Homo sapiens: one gene and its partners. The protein of the gene in region 4 purifies or fractionates together with the protein of the main gene of each other region. This does not show direct contact. Each region holds a gene or a part of one and is shown on either strand. Other genes may lie near its edges.

What was found.
Region 1: the proteins of DDX46 (region 4) and EPN1 fractionate together in Homo sapiens (co-fractionation; one large-scale study listed by BioGRID). This does not show direct contact.
Region 2: the proteins of DDX46 (region 4) and ZDHHC8 fractionate together in Homo sapiens (co-fractionation; one large-scale study listed by BioGRID). This does not show direct contact.
Region 3: the proteins of DDX46 (region 4) and SRFBP1 purify together in Homo sapiens (co-immunoprecipitation; one large-scale study listed by IntAct). This does not show direct contact.

What each region holds. Positions count from the first base shown.
Region 1 is NC_000019.10:55,695,726-55,699,225, reverse strand, and holds part of EPN1 (epsin-1), read right to left. Parts: 3' UTR 1-3,500. UniProt on the Homo sapiens protein: Binds to membranes enriched in phosphatidylinositol 4,5-bisphosphate (PtdIns(4,5)P2). Modifies membrane curvature and facilitates the formation of clathrin-coated invaginations. Regulates receptor-mediated endocytosis.
Region 2 is NC_000022.11:20,141,804-20,145,155, reverse strand, and holds part of ZDHHC8 (palmitoyltransferase ZDHHC8), read right to left. Parts: intron 2,401-3,352; coding exon 1,400-2,400; intron 1-1,399. UniProt on the Homo sapiens protein: Palmitoyltransferase that catalyzes the addition of palmitate onto various protein substrates and therefore functions in several unrelated biological processes.
Region 3 is NC_000005.10:121,975,475-121,978,974, reverse strand, and holds part of SRFBP1 (serum response factor-binding protein 1), read right to left. Parts: intron 1-3,500. UniProt on the Homo sapiens protein: May be involved in regulating transcriptional activation of cardiac genes during the aging process. May play a role in biosynthesis and/or processing of SLC2A4 in adipose cells.
Region 4 is NC_000005.10:134,785,486-134,790,728, reverse strand, and holds part of DDX46 (probable ATP-dependent RNA helicase DDX46), read right to left. Parts: coding exon 5,143-5,243; intron 2,217-5,142; coding exon 2,138-2,216; intron 1,514-2,137; coding exon of another isoform or gene 1,461-1,513; exon of another isoform or gene 1,115-1,460; intron 624-1,114; exon of another isoform or gene 507-623; intron 260-506; coding exon 177-259; intron 1-176. UniProt on the Homo sapiens protein: Component of the 17S U2 SnRNP complex of the spliceosome, a large ribonucleoprotein complex that removes introns from transcribed pre-mRNAs.

The DNA.
Region 1 (3,500 bases), on a different chromosome or scaffold from region 4:
AACTAAGGGCCTGGGGGAGGCGGGAGGGAAGGCATTAGGAGATATACCTAATGTAAATGACGAGTTAATGCGTGCAGCACACCAACATGGCACATGTATATATATGTAACAAACCTGCGCGTTGTGCATAGGTACCCTAGAACTTAAAGTATAATAAAAAAATAAAAAATGAAATGGGGTGGGGGCCGCTACAGTGGCTCACGCCTGTAATCCCAGCACTTTGGGAGGCCGAGGCAGGCGGATCACGAGGTCAGGAGATCGAGACCATCCTAACATGGTGAAACCCCGTCTGTACTAAAAATACAAAAAAAAATTAGCTGGGCGTGGTGGTGGGCACCTGTAATCCCAGCTACTCGAGAGGCTGAGGCAGGAGAATCGCTTGAACCCGGGAGGTGGAGGTTGCGGTGAGCCGAGATCGTGCCACTGCACTCCAGCCTGGCAACAGAGCAAGACTCCTTCTAGGGGGGAAAAAAAAGGGCATTTCTTCCTATTCAATGAGAACATGAGGAAAAGGCAAAAGGCAGAGGCTGGCTGGGAGTGGGTTTGTGTGTGTAAAATTGAGTTTCAGTATAAAAAAAGATCAAGGCAGGACTGAAAGCCCTGAGGCTGGCATCGCAGCTCCAGAGCGAGGGGCAAGCGTAGGGCGAGGAGCGAGGATAGGGCGAGGGCGGGAGTAGAGCGAGGGGTAAGGCTAGGGTGAGCACAGGTGGCAGGGGACTCTGGTGGGCCTGGACTCTGGTGGGCGGGGTGACCCAGGAGCTCGGATGAAGCTCCTACGGGCTCCAGGAAGGTTCCCTCAAGTGCCTTCCCCACCCAACCCCTAGGCCCTGAACAGAGTCGAGACCCAGGAATGTCCCACGCCCCATCGCTTCACCTGTCCCAGGGAGAAATTCTGGGGTTTTTTCCACTTCAGCCCTCTCTGGGGGAAGACGTCGGGTCAGAAGCACATCTGCTCCTGAGAGCCAGCCGGGAGCACCACCATGACTCTTGCTTAGCCAAACCTGAGGGATCTGAACCTCCTCCTAGGCCCATCCGTGCATGCCCTTGTAAAATCCTTTCAGCAAATGAACCCCGCCGCCATCCCCCCCAACCCCCGCCACCCTCACATCTGATAGGCTTCTTCAGCCTCCACCATCCCCAGGTGACCTCTGATCACCCTGGCCTGCCTTCAGCAAGAATCCTGCTAGGTGGGTTTAGCCGAAAACCCCCGGACCCCTGAGGTTTGCTCTTAGTGATTTTCCATCCACTGATGGTACCTGTACCTGTCTCGATGGTCCTGAATAAAGTCTTCCTCACGGCCATTTAACAAGCTCGCCATCCCACTGTGGGGAGAGAGACACATCTGCTGTAGAAAGAGTGATACACACACAGTGGGGGGAGCCCTCAATCGGGGACAACAGCAGGCTCCCAGCATTCTCCCAGCGTTCAACCGTGTATGTCACTAAGCTCAGGTGCTTGGGCCTCATGGGGGACTCCTACACAGCAGCTCCTGCTGAGCACTTTGGTGGCTGGAATATTCTAGAAAGAGGAATAAAGTAGGAGACACGAGATCTGTGGTGCTACTTTGTAATTCGCACTGTAGGGAAAAGAAGATGCCGAAGATGCTGTAGTTAAGCCCCAAATTTATGTGCAAGCCTCTGGGTTTTTGTCTTGTTTTTCAATCCTGTCTTCTCTGTTTTGCCAAATGAGGAAATGGTGGGGAGAATTAAAGCCTCACACCTTTAACCCCTCCACTGGACTAATCCAACTGTATCATTTTATCTTCGTCCTCAGCTTTTTTGAAGAGAAAGGGAGTGCAGGCTCCGCAGTGCGAAATCGTGAAACTTATCCTTAATTTGGTGAATGGAGGGTCTGACAAGTGAGGGGCCCAGGAGCTATGACCCTGTGGGGAGACCAAGATTGGCAAGAGGGAGGCTCGGCTCGCCTCCCCTTTCCATGTGATCCCACCCAGAGCTGCCGCCTTCAGCTGGCTCTCTGTGCCCTGTGGGGCTCCCCCATCACAACCGCCTAGAGCAGCAGGGTCTCGGACAGCCCAAGCGTAAGGGACGCTTGCTGCTGCCTGGGGACAGCACCCCCTCCCCCGGTAACAGTCCCCATTTCCTCCTGGGAAATGACTCTCCCACAACATACCCAGGCCGGGTGTGAGAAGAGGGCTTCCCCTCCCTGGCTAAGCAAGGGGGATGCTCCTCTGCAACTGAATCTGGAACCGGCTGACCCCAAAGTTCCTGTGTCCCTGGGACCCACCTCTTCCTGCATGGTGTGGTCAGCAATTCCTCCATCAAGCCCCCGACAACCCTCCAGACACCCTGGTCTGCAGGGGCAAGTGGAGGCCAGAGAACGCTCCGACACAGGTCATGACCCAATTCACAGCAAGAAACAGAACCCCAACCTCACATCACCCCAACAGCACTCCTTTTGCTCTGCAATCCCCAGGTGACGTAGGTCTGTCCACCAGGGAGTGGGCACACAGGGTGGCCACGACGCTGCTCGGACACCGCAGTCATGTCCCTCTCAGTGGCCTCCAACACTCCACTGGCTGGGTGCTCCCTGGACCCCGACCCATAACAAGTGTCCCTGTGATGTAGCTGTCTGGCCCCACCCTGAGCCCAGAGCGTCCCCCGGGCAGAAGGGGCAAGAAGTCTGACCCCAGGGGCCTGGCCCCACACAGCCTTCACCCCAGCACCTCTGAGACAAGAGCTGTCGGAGTCACTGAGGGAGCGAACCCAGCCGTCAGGACTTGACCCCAGGGGATCACGGAGGGAGACTCCACATGGAAGAACAGCCTGTTCGGCTTAAAACAGACATGGCCAGATCCCCATCCCTGAGGCCCTGGCTGTGGGGCCTGCAACAAGCTGTCACCTAGCCCTGGAGATGACAGCAACACCCCCCTCACAAGGCGGCCCGAGGATTCTCCCGGATAGTCTCACCAGGTGTGGTCCAGCCCAGGACAAGAGCACACAGAGGAAAACAGCACACAGAGGACAACCAGGAGGCGCCTGGTGGTCCACTCAGCTCAGCCGGCAGAGGCTGACCCGGCTTTCCAGGAGTGCAGGGATGGATTAGTGATGCTTGCGGTGGGCCCGGGCGATGGCGACGGTGACCTGTGTTGCACATGTGCCATCTCTCAGGATTCTTCTCCTCCCTGAACCCCAGTGCACTCTCTGACCTCATCCTGGTGTCCCCTCAACACAAGAGCAAGGCCTCCTGCACCGGAAGCGTCTGGCCATGAGTGGCCTCCCGACCACCTGGACCTGTGTGGGCTACAGCTCCGCCAGGCCTCGCACAGTCCACCCTCAACCCAGCCATCCCTTGACCTGGGAGGGTCAGGGAAATCAGGGCTTCTGAGACAGAGGGGCTGGTTGCCAGCCACCCCCGAGAAAGAGATGTGACCTGAGCCCTGGGTCCCTGGATGAAGGGGCTCTGGGGGACACACGAAATCACAGATGGGAATCTGGGAGTGCCAAGCCCGTGGGAATTGCCATTTATTCCCAAAGTTGCCA
Region 2 (3,352 bases), on a different chromosome or scaffold from region 4:
AGCAAGACAGAGACGACGCGGACGTGGACTAGTGCAGCCGAGTTGTGGGGCCCCGTGCAGTCCCTGCCCTCTGGGCTTGGAGGGTTCACCTGGAAAGCAGGTGAGGGATGCAGAGCCTGCCTGGGGAGCAGCTGTGCTGTCACAGGACAGACAGATGTTGTCAGAACTGCCACCACCCTCCCGAGTCCCTGGGTCCCTCCTAGCCAGCACTGGCCACAGAGAGCATGGGGCAGCCAGGTGGGCACTGAATGGAGCCCCTGCCGTGCCCTGCACTGGGAGCCCAGCCACTCTGCCTGGCCTCATTCCTGCTCTCTCTCAGGAAAACGAGGGGCTGCCCTCCTGCCCACCAGCGCTGACCAACAGCAGCTGTATCTTTGCTACTTAAACCTTCTTGAGGCGAGAGCCCTTTGTCCCCGGGCTGCGATCCCTGCCTGGCTGCAATGCTGCCCACTTCTAGGTCTCGGGCTCCCCACTCATCACTCCCAGTGGCAGCCTCCTCCCCAACTCCACAAAAGCTGAACAGGTCCCACCCTGTGGGGTAGAGGAGACCCGCTCAGGGCTGGACTGCTGTGCCCTCAGCCCCTTTGTGGCCAAGTGGCCTGGGCTGGGCTGGGCTGGGCTCTCCCTCTGGGGCTGCATCTGCCGACGGGAAACAACTGCGCCTGTGCTTGAGGTTTCCAGGCCCGGACAGGGCGACAGATGCCGTGAGGACACCATGCGTCTGTGGCGTGGGTCCTGGCCCCAGCAGGTGTGCAGCTCTCCTACCTGGACCTGGGCCTGTGAGCCAGCTGACCCCGCCTTCTCAGTCACCAACCTGCCGGGTGCCTGGAGCCAGCCTGCTTTCTCCAGTCCTCAGCTTCCCCACCTACGAGCAGGGAAGCCCCTGCTTCCTAGAACTATGTCCTACAGGGAGGGCCAGGGCCCGGCCACTCAGGGTGGCACATTCTGCTGCTAGGTAATATCCTCAGCCCCAGCCTCCTAGAGATGCAGCCAAGCAGGCCCAGGGAGAGCCCTGGGTGGACAGGGCCACTGTGACCCAGGAAGCCAGAGCCACAGCCTAAAGGAGGCCCAGGCTGCCACATGATACTGGCCCCAAAGAGAAAGCCCCATGGCCTCCCACATGCTGGGTCTGTGCCAGCTCTAGAAGAACGAGTCGTCGGGCTCAGGACACAAATTCTCATACCCTGTCCCCAGAGCGTGCCCAGGACATCCTCAGAGCTGGGCCACACGGGCTAGCCAAGGCCTTCAAGGCAGGGTGAGGCGCATCCTCCCTGTCCCGTCCCCAGAGAAAAACTCAGGCCCCTGGGATGACCTATGAGTGCCCAGCCAAGAGGGGCCCTGGAGACGGCTGGACAGCTGCCCTGTGCCAGGAAGCCCACCCGCACCTCCCGGCACCCACCTCTGCACGGTCAGCGAGGGCGGTGGCTCTGGGAGGTCCGTGTGGATGAAGGCGACAGCTTTGGGGCCCGCGTAGGATGGTGAGTGGGGAGTGCCGGGCGGGGAGGGCAGGCCCTGGCGTGCAGGTGACCTGTGTGAGCCACTGCTGGGCCGGGGCCCCGGGGCGTTGCTGCTGGCCTGATCAGCCTGCAGGGAGGAGGACGACGTCCGCGGTGCACGGCTCACGGAGCTGGACAGCGAGGACAGTGACGTCTGCAGGGCAGGGTTGCGGGCGCCACCGAAGCCGGGCCCAGCCACAAGGTCGTCTCTGGAGCCATAGCGCAGCGCGGGACCTCGGGGGCCCTCGGACAGCACACTGGCCTGCTGCAGGCTGTAGGAGCTGGGAGCGTCATAGACGCCTGAGTCGCCGAAGAGTGAGTCGGCCTGGGAGCGCAGCAGGCGCTCACGCTCCTCCCTGTCCTTGCGCTCCTGGATGGATGCCATGATGGTCCTGGACAGGTTGTCGTAGCGCACAGGCGAGGGCTCCCGGGGGCGGGGGCCCAGCACGGGGCTGAAGCTGCGGGGTAGGGGCCGTGGCGGGTCGCCCGTTGCCCCAGGATGCAGGTAGGGTGAGTGGTATCCGGCCACGCCAACTGCTGGGTGGGCAGGGCAGGCGTGGCCACCAGGCGAGCCAGGATTGAGCAGGCTGTCATAGGACAGGCTGCCGTTGCGGTTGGGCAGTGCATGGGGGGCAAAAATGCTACGGTGGGGCGTGGGGGGCCCCCCCTCAGAGCGCAGGGGCTGCAGGGCCACATGATCCCCGCCCCGCCGGCTCGAGGCCTTGAGGCTCAGGGAGCGCAAAGCGCCCGAGAAGGCATCAGAGGCGCTGAGCGGTGGGGATGGCGGGTAGGCTGCATGCAGGCCCCCTGGCCCATAGTCAGGGAGGTCCAGGCTCGGCTCGGACACAAAGTCCAGGCTACGGATGCTGTCGTCCCCCAGGGTCAGGGAATCAGGGCCTGGAACCTGTAGGGAGAAGGCATTCTCACCACTGCCCACCTGCCACCCCGCCTGCAGCCGCCAGTCAGCACCCACGGGGGCCACACATGGCACCGTGGCCTCAGGAACTGGGCCTCAAGGAGCCATAAGAGCCACATAGTGACCCATGGCCCTGTCCCTGAGCATCCACGGCTGAGGGGCAGGGGCTCTGCAACAGGAGGGAGGCCACAGCTGGCTACTGCAGACACCTGGGGTTCTGCCCTTGGAGCCATGCAGCCCCAGGGGCCCACCACTCAGGGCAGCCAGAGGGAGGAGGAGCCTCGTCTAGCCCCTGTGACGGGCACATAGGCATGGGCTTGGGCTTGGGCTTGGGACAAGAGCCTCAGGAACCACAAAGCCAGAAGTGGATCAGGGCAAATGTGGGCTCAATGCACTTGGCCAACCAGACCCAATCCCCCACTGGACCCAGGAGTCCCAGGAAGATGACATACCCAGAGCCCTCATCTCCAAACAGGGATGCCTCCTCCTGCGAGGCACGGCCCCTACATGCCTGCAGACTCAGACCCTTGGCCAAGGAGGCTCAGACTCACTGCTTCACCCAGTGACTCTCTCCAGGAAAGACATCAGTCCTGAGGGGAGAGGTCCCTGGGGATGGGGCTGGTCTAGGTGCACAGGGCCCAGTCACAGGCCTGCCTCTCGGGGTGGCCCAGAAGGAAGGATGGCACCCTGGGACTGTTTGGTGTTCCTGATCACTGCACAGACCGCCCCGCACTGCCCACCATTCCAGTGACCACAGAGCACTCATGCAACTCAGGGAAGAGAAATGTGCTTTCTCAAGCACGTCTCAAATTCTTCCAAAGTCTTCCCGTGGGCCTTACAGAGTGACTAATGGTGGAATTCCAGGCATCCTGGTACACAGTGCTCCTGGGGGCAGCCGCCCACCTGGCCTAGGGCAATGCTGGCCAAGGGACAGACGCCA
Region 3 (3,500 bases), about 13 Mb from region 4:
AGAATGTAAAACTAGGGGAAGAATAGAACAAAAGGAGAAAGTTTTAAACTAGAGGAGAAGTAAGAGGTAGCAGGCAGAACAAGGTCTCAAAGAAGAATACATAAATTCTCATCTTAAAGAATATTCAGGATAGGAAGAAGTAACAGCCTTAAGAGAGGAAGAGGTTAAAAAAGAATACAGATAGGCCAGGAGTGGTTGCTCACGCCTGTAATCCCAGTACTATGGGAGGCCGAGGTGGGCGGATCACCTGAGGTCAGGCGTTCGAGACCAGCCTGGCCAACATGGCAACACCTTGTCTCTACTAAAAATACAAAAGTTAGCCAGGCATGATGGCAGGCAACTGTAGTCCCAGTTACTCAGGAGACTGTGGCAGGAGAATCATTTGAACCCAGGAGGCGGAGGTTACAGTGAGCAGAGATCGGGTCACTGCACTCCAGCATGGGCGACAGAGAGAGACTCCATCTCAAGTAAAAAAAAAAGAAATACAGATATAGGCTACTGTGTATATTTACCTGTCAGGAATTAAAGGATCTGAAAACACGTTGCACATCTTTCAGTCTTTTTTTTCCTAGATGGCAAGTTTCATGTTTACTAAATTATCTCCTCCAATATCTAGGAAAGTGAGTCTGGATATATCATAGGATGTTCTCAACTTACTGAAGCAGTATACTACAGTGGATAACATAATTAGCTTTATAATCAGTTATAAGTTGCTCAGTTTCTCTAAGCTTGAGTTTCTTATTCTGTAAGACAGGGATAAAAATGATATCTACCTAGTGAGACAGTAAATATAAAACACATAATATAATGCCTGGCACATAGTAAATGCTCAGTAAAAGCTAGTTGTTACTTTTATTATTGAGTAAGAGACTTGTTGCACATTTTGAGTAATTTCAGTATATGCTTGAATTTTACCATCTCCTTCTCCAGTTAAGTAACTTACTGATCTATAAGTGTTGATAGGCTAATTTAACTAACTTTCAAAGAAAAAGAAACTGTTTTAGAAGGCAATATTTCTACTAATATCAAAGTTAAAAGTATGGACACTATTATAGAAAAGGCAGCAAAGACTTGGGTTTCATACACCATAGTCTATAAAATTAGAACCTATGATTTTATAGTGTAAAGATCAAGCCAATTTTTTTTCTTAGTTGGCCAGAAAAAGCAAACTCTCATTTCTAAAAATACTCATGATTTCTTCACAAAGAAGTCATCCTGCAACAAAATACCCTATTATTATAGAAAGCAAGAATAGGATAGTATGTCATCAATAAGACTATAAAAATGAAGCAGTGTCTGAGCCAAGGAAAAAATTTCTCTGGAAAAATAAATGAGCAGAGGTCTTTTCTCCAAATTTAATTGAGATTGAGAGTTTGTTTTGTCATCATTTATTTGATACTCCCAAGTAGGTAATAACCATTTCCTAAGAAAATTACAAATGACCTTTTAATTAAGAAAAATGCTTTATTTATTTGCTTTGTTTAGAAAAGACAACAAAATTTGTAAAAGAACCATAAATAAGGAATAAAATTTGACACGTAAGAACAGCAAATATATAGTCTTTCTAGTATTCATTTTATATTTAAATTCATTCCAGTTTTTAAAAAGCATTACAAAAGAAGTTGAAGTCAGAGTAGCCAACCCAGCCTGCCCTAACTCCTGCCACAAACTCAAGACATATATATACTATGAATTTTATGAATTTAAGGAATACATAGGCTATGAATTTGGCTTTCTATGATGCAACCATTCCATTGCGCAATCACAGGGAAAAATAGAACACAAATCAAACCAAACCAAACCAAACCAAACCACGATAGTGATGTGGTAATCTTGTAAACCTACAAACTTTATCACTGAATCAGATTTCCCTTTGCTGATGAGATTCAAAACAAGAAACAGAAAACAGGCTTTACATTTAGATCAAAAAGGACAACTTTTCTTTCTAATTAATCAAATGTATCACTGAAATTTACAAAAGGGAAGTATTCTAAAGATTGAGTATCTTTTGTTCTCAAACTCTTCATACACCACATACAAGTTATTATATATAACAAACCATGGAAAGAATGTAGTGTGTGTGTATGTATATATTTTTTATATATATAAAAAATTTAACAAATTCCAGTTTACTCCAGTTTTTAAACAGTATTACAAAAGAAGTTAAAGTCAGAGTAGCCAACTATACATTGTATGTGTATGTGTATGCACATATATATATTATATATATATATACATGCATACACACACACACTGCATTCTTTCCATGGTAAAATAAAATCAGCAATTATATAGTAGCTCAAAGCCTCTGAATAATTTAAGACTACAAAAATGACTATTCAGAAGAAATTACAGGGAAAAATTTAGGTAGGCAATGTAATTTAGTAAGAACCTTGGTTAAGAGAAAGTGAAAGAGATAAATTGTAACTTCCTATTTTATTGCTATTCTCAAGACAAAATCTCTAAAGATTTTATTTCTCATAGGAATATCATTTTAAAAAGGTATATGAAAAAACTAAATAATCTGCAAACCACAGAGACACAAATGATCACTGACAGTCAAATACAGAAGACTTTTTTTTCCTGAAGGACTGAATAAAAAGGGAATTATAACCTTGAGAAATAAAAGTTATATCAGATGGATTCCATGAATTTTATAATAGTGTGCAGCAGAGGGAAGGAAGAACACAAGAAACAAATATACTTCATATCAAAGAGTCGTTTCCTAGATGTTTTTATTCAGATTAACTGGGATAACTTTGTCCTATTAAACACTTTACTATCCGTTTAAAAGGAAGAAAGGCTGAGAATCTTTGATAACTTAACTCAATTAAAATAGTTAGAGAGTTTTATTTCTCTTTTACTTAATTCAAAACTTGAAAGTTATACCAAAATATAATAGGCAAACATGCATGCAAAATGACCCTGCAATTAAGAAAATTGCTGGGACCAAATGTTGTTTTTAAGTTCTACAGTAAAACAGTCTCCCAGACATTTAATGTCATGTCATTTGGTAAATGAAAGTTTCCTCAAAGTAAGAGCAGCAAGAAGACCTAAAAATTATGCTAGTGAAGAGTCTGACTGAAAAAAAAAACAAAAATATGGGATCACATTGGTCTAACACTAATTTTATTTGAAGTTACTACAGAACTGAATAAAATGCCGATACCAATACATAAAAATTTATTGAGCTGGCAACAAGGAAAGCATGATGTCAGCCACCAATATCACCATCCACATTCCCAAATAGCATGAAGACTTTAATTCTTGAACTGACTTCGTGCTAAAGTTACAGTAAAAATAAAAACCTGAGGCAGGAGGCATTATTAAACATAGATGAATTTAGTTTGGCACAATTTTGACTCAAATTAGCCTAGCACTTTAACAAATTCAGTCAAAAACAGAAAAATGCAAGCTTAAATGTTACAATTTTCTAAATGTGCTACATTCTTCACCAAACAGACTGATACAAGATGTCTTACGCAACTCTCGGGAATATT
Region 4 (5,243 bases):
GTGAGGAATCTGAAACATAAATATGTACTTCAATACTGTATGTCCCCAGTCTTCTGTATTACCGTGCAACAGAAAAGTGTGTGTGTGAATTTCAGAAACCACATGAACATTTCATTCTCATGGCAACTACAAAGTTATATTTACATTTCAAAACACTTAAGAAATTTAATGATTACCTGGGGTTCAAAACCCATGTCAAACATTCTGTCTGCTTCATCTAAAACAACATATGTCACTCTTCGAAGATTTGTGACCCGACCTAAGATGAAAAGAAAAATAAAGACAAAAAGAAAACTAAAAATCAGTCACAATTCATTTTATGGCTACCAAGAACTTTTAAAAACTGTAAAGGAAACTAAAATGCCTGACTTAACCAGAGGGGTAAGTTAGGTATCTTTAAAAAGTGAAAAGAAATTTTGATCTACAATGTCTTAATCTAGTGGCAAATACTTTCTGACAATGGGTATATGAGGCCCTTTATTTTGTCAAACTCGTCTCTTGCATACCATCATAGGGCCTGAAGAACCTGTAAAATTCAGAAAACAGCCCTCTCCAAAACACATCATAAAACTAAGACTGAGATGAAGCATCGAGCCACATCAGCCATTATCTGACAGCATCACCTAGAAAAAAACATATTAGAGATTACAGCGTATGTGTGGAAAGCAAGTTCTAGTGCTAACTATTTTAGACACAGAAAATGTCTCTCTATATTATTTTATAACCTACTTCCATATATTTAGAAGCTTCTTAAATGGGCATGTCAAACCCTTAATGAGAAGCTATTTGACAGCATTAGGAAATTAAAGTATCACACAAAAACTTTAAATACCAAAACACATTACATAAATACATTTTCCATACAAAGATATAAATCCCAATTTTATTAAGTGAACCCACTGACTTAAATAAATGCAACTGGCTTCCTAACCAGTGAAAACAAAATACATACATAGGAAATTCCTTCTAAAATATTAACAGAAGCATTGCTATCAACTGTTGAATCAATCACCTGGCAAAAACACGTATAAAATAGTTATTTAAAAATAGACCACAATGACAGATAAGAGAAAAAGGTAAAATTAATCAAGATGAATTTCAGGAGGAGACTTAATCAATGCAGCATTGAGAAAAAAAAAAAGGGATTATTTAATCAGCATTCAAACCAAAACTTTCCATATGCTAGACAAGCACAATGACTTCTCAATTTCGATGTCACTTTGCCAACTTCATGTACAATTAGAATTAGAAATTCAAGCAGAATACTACTAGAAACATGCACTAACTCAGTTTTTAATACTCTATTATGTACACACTAAATATTGCAATGGAAACCTCTGAGAGCATTTTCTTCAAAAAATAAAAAGTGCCAAAATAAGTGCTATCTAATATTTAAGTATTCCACACTAGCATTTGTAGCCCCAATTAGTTTTGCAAGGTCGGGAACAGCATTAAATTACCTACCTTTGATGGTTTAAGTCTCGGAAGCCCAGTTCTATAAATCTTGAAGGGCCTTTCTCCACAGAAGTTAAATAATGTCAACAGTTTAGTAAGAGTTTTGATAGGGAATAATTTAACAAAGCATAACATTTGAGCTACAAACATGCAATATTTACAAAAGATAAAATTTCTTGAAGCTGCAATATCTTAATTTATGTAGTATCTAAGAAAATACTAGCTCATGTGGAGAAAAAGTCTAAATTTTGTAATAAAGAAAAAGCTACTACCCCACTCTTTTACTAAGCAAAGCCAGGCCAAAACTGGATTAAGAATCCAAGTTATGATCAGATGGAGTTACTTCTGAAAAAAAATTTTAAATTGCAAAAATATCATTAATGCTTGTAATAATCAACTTGTTACAATTATTATTTTTTTTTTTTGAGACGGAGTCTTACTCTGTCACCCAGGCTGGAGTACAGTGGTGCGATCTTGGCTCACTGCAAGCTCCGCCTCCCGGGTTCAAGCTATTCTCCTGCCTCAGCCTCCCAAGTAGCTGGGACTACAGGCTACAAATTTTAAGATACTGCAGCTTTAAGAAGAAATATAGAAACCCTTTGTTGGTTTCTTGCATCTGTTTTAACAAAAAAAAGTAAAGAATTCAAAAATAAAAGACACCAAAAAAATACCCCTGACTTACCACTGTTAGCGGCTAACATGTCAATCATTCGACCAGGTGTGCAAACAATAATTTCAGCACCTCTTTTCAGCTCAGCAATCTAATAAAAAAGATGAAACTTTATAGTCTATTACTAATGCTTACTTAAACACTAAAAAATACTGCATTTAGTTCTTGCCTAGTCTAATTAGAAGACTTCCAAGCTTCCTGCTTAATTATTTTGAATCTCGGGGCACTACTAAAGAAATAGCAACAACGTGACCACATAGTGCCATAAATTTGAAACAAATAAGAACTAGAGAATTCTGCAAATTTGATTTGCCACTATCCCTCAAAACCAAGAAATGAACTTAAGAAAGCAGTTTAAAAAAAAAAAGTGATAATCTCTTGAGCCCAGGAGTTCAAGGTTGGAGTGAGCTATGATCACATCCTTGCACTCCAGCCTGAGCAAGAGCAAGACCCTGCCTCAGAAAAAGAAATTTCTAAGTGACCACATAGACTAGTGTTTTTCAAATTGAGGGTTGCCACATTAGTGAATCATGAAATCACTTTAACAGTCATAATCAGCTTTTTTTTTTTTTTTTTTTGAGACAGGGTCTCACTCTGTTGCCCAGGCTCTGTTGCCCAGTGCAGCAGTGTCATCATAGGTCATTGCAGCCTAGATCCTGGGCTCAAGTGACCCTCCCATCTCAGCCCCTCCCCCCACCACCCCACACACCCTCCCAGTATCTAGGACTACAGGCACTCGCTAATTTATTTACTGTTTTAAGAGATGGGGTCTCACTACATTGCCCAGGCTGGTCACAAACTCCTGGACTCAAGTGATTCTTCCATTTCAGCCTCCCAAAATGCTGTGATGATTACAGGTATGAGCCATAGTGTTCAACCACAACCAGCATTTTTTAAATGAAATGGAATGGAAAATACCAGAAGTCCCTTAACATCATAAAACTTTTGTTTGGCATTTATATAAATACAACGTGCAGGCATGTACCATGTTATTTTGTAAGTGTATTTCTACAAACTACAGTCATGAAAAATCATAAAGATAAACTTAGAAAATGAAGTAATTTGAAGTAATTAAAATAGCACTGGAGTTAACAAAAGCAAATATTCTTGAAGTGTGTTCTTGTAACAATAGTCCTAAGAAACAGTTTTGTAGTTAAGTTCAGAAAACGTCACTTAATTTATCCCATTTATCTAGCAACACAATATACATTAGCTTATTAAGAACAAAGAAGTCTTACAGGAAAGAAAGTGGTTTTAACTTTTTATACTCCAACATTTCCAAAACTTATCCAATCACAGAACCTACTTTTTTGCCTTCTTCTAGTTAAGCAAAATATCTGAAAACTATTTCATTCTTTAGAAGACAGCTGAAGGGCTGGTCACAGTGGCTCACGTCTATACCTTTCGGAGGTGTTACAAAGGGAAGCCAAGGCAAGCAGATTGCTTGAGCCCAGGAATTCAAGACCAGCCTGGGCAACATGGCAAAACCTCGTCTCTACAAAAAAATACAAAAACTAGCCGGGTGTGGTAGCATGCGTCTGTGGTCCCAGATACTCAGGAGGCTCAAGAGGGAGGACGGCTTAAGCCCAGGAGGTCAAGGATGCAGTGAGCCAAGGTCACACCACTGCACTCCAGCCCGGGCAACAGAGTAAGATGCTGTCTCCAATAAAACAAAACCAAAAAACAACAACAACAACAACAACAAAACACCTCTGATATTAATGCATCCCAGTAATCACCATCACTTCCGCCACCCCCCAAGATGGAGTCTTGCTCTGTCTCCCAGGCTGGAGTGCAGTGGCGTGATCTCAGCTTACTGCAACCTCCGCCTCCCAGGTTCAAGTGATTCTCCTGCCTCAGCCTACCGAGTAGCTGATATTACAGGCAGGCGCCACCAAGCCAGGCTAATTTCTGTGTTTTCAGTAGAGACGGGGAGTCTCGCCATGTTGGCTAGGCTGGTCTTGAGCTCCTGACCTCATGATCCACCCGCTTCGGCCTCTCAAAGCGCTGGGATTACAGGCATGAGCCACCGTGCCTGGCCACCATCACTTTTTAAAGATGTCAGCATAGATTAGAGAAACAAATGCTCAGAGATCAGAGACCTAGGTTCCAGGACAAACTCTAGAACGTATTAACCTAATTGGTCAACTTAATAAATCTTTCTGAATATTTCCTCATATGTAAAATGAAAAAAAAAATCTGCTTTCTCAGGCAGGGGAAGAGGGAGGAGGGATAATCTATGTAAAAAGATTCAAAAATTCTAATCTAGCATTAACATAGTATGTTCTTTTTTGCCACAACTATATTGGGTCATAATTAACAAAAATTATATATATTTAAGGTGTACAACATGTTTGATATACATATACACTCTGAAATGATGAACACAATCAAGCTAACATATCACCTCATATAGTTACCAATATTTTCTTTTGTGGTAAGAACATGTAAGATTGGTCAGGCACGGTGGCTCACACCTGTAATCCCAACACTTTGGGAGGCCGAGGCAGGAGGATCACCTGAGGTCAGGTGTTCAAGACCAATCTGGCCAATATGGTGAAACCCCGTCTCTACTAAAAATACAAAAATTAGCCAGGCGTGGTGGCAGGCACCTGTAGTCCCAGCAACTTGGGAGGCTGAGGTAGGAGAATCGCTTGAACCAGGGAGGCAGAGGTTGCAGTGAGCCGAGATCGCGCCACTGTACTCCAGCCTGTGTGACAGAGCGAGACTCCATCTCAAAAAAGAAAAAAAAAAAACATGATGTGAGATCTACTGGCTTAGCGAATTTTCAGCACACAATATAACATTAACTAGTCACCATGCTGTACATTACATCTCCAAAGGTATTCATCCTACATAAAATAACTAATTCTTACTATTATTTTTATACTTCATTTTTTAAATGATTTTAGAAGCAATCACTATTCAAAAAACTAAAAGTAAAAGTCACTTTTACTTTATTGAATCATCCAACTTGAGAAAAGAATGGAAAACATGAATGTTTCTTATATAACTACCTGCTCACTGATTCCTGTTCCTCCGTAAACACAGACCACTCTAAGTCCCAAAGTCTTGGAAAACTTCTTACACTCTTTAGTAATCTGTAAAGCCAGTTCTC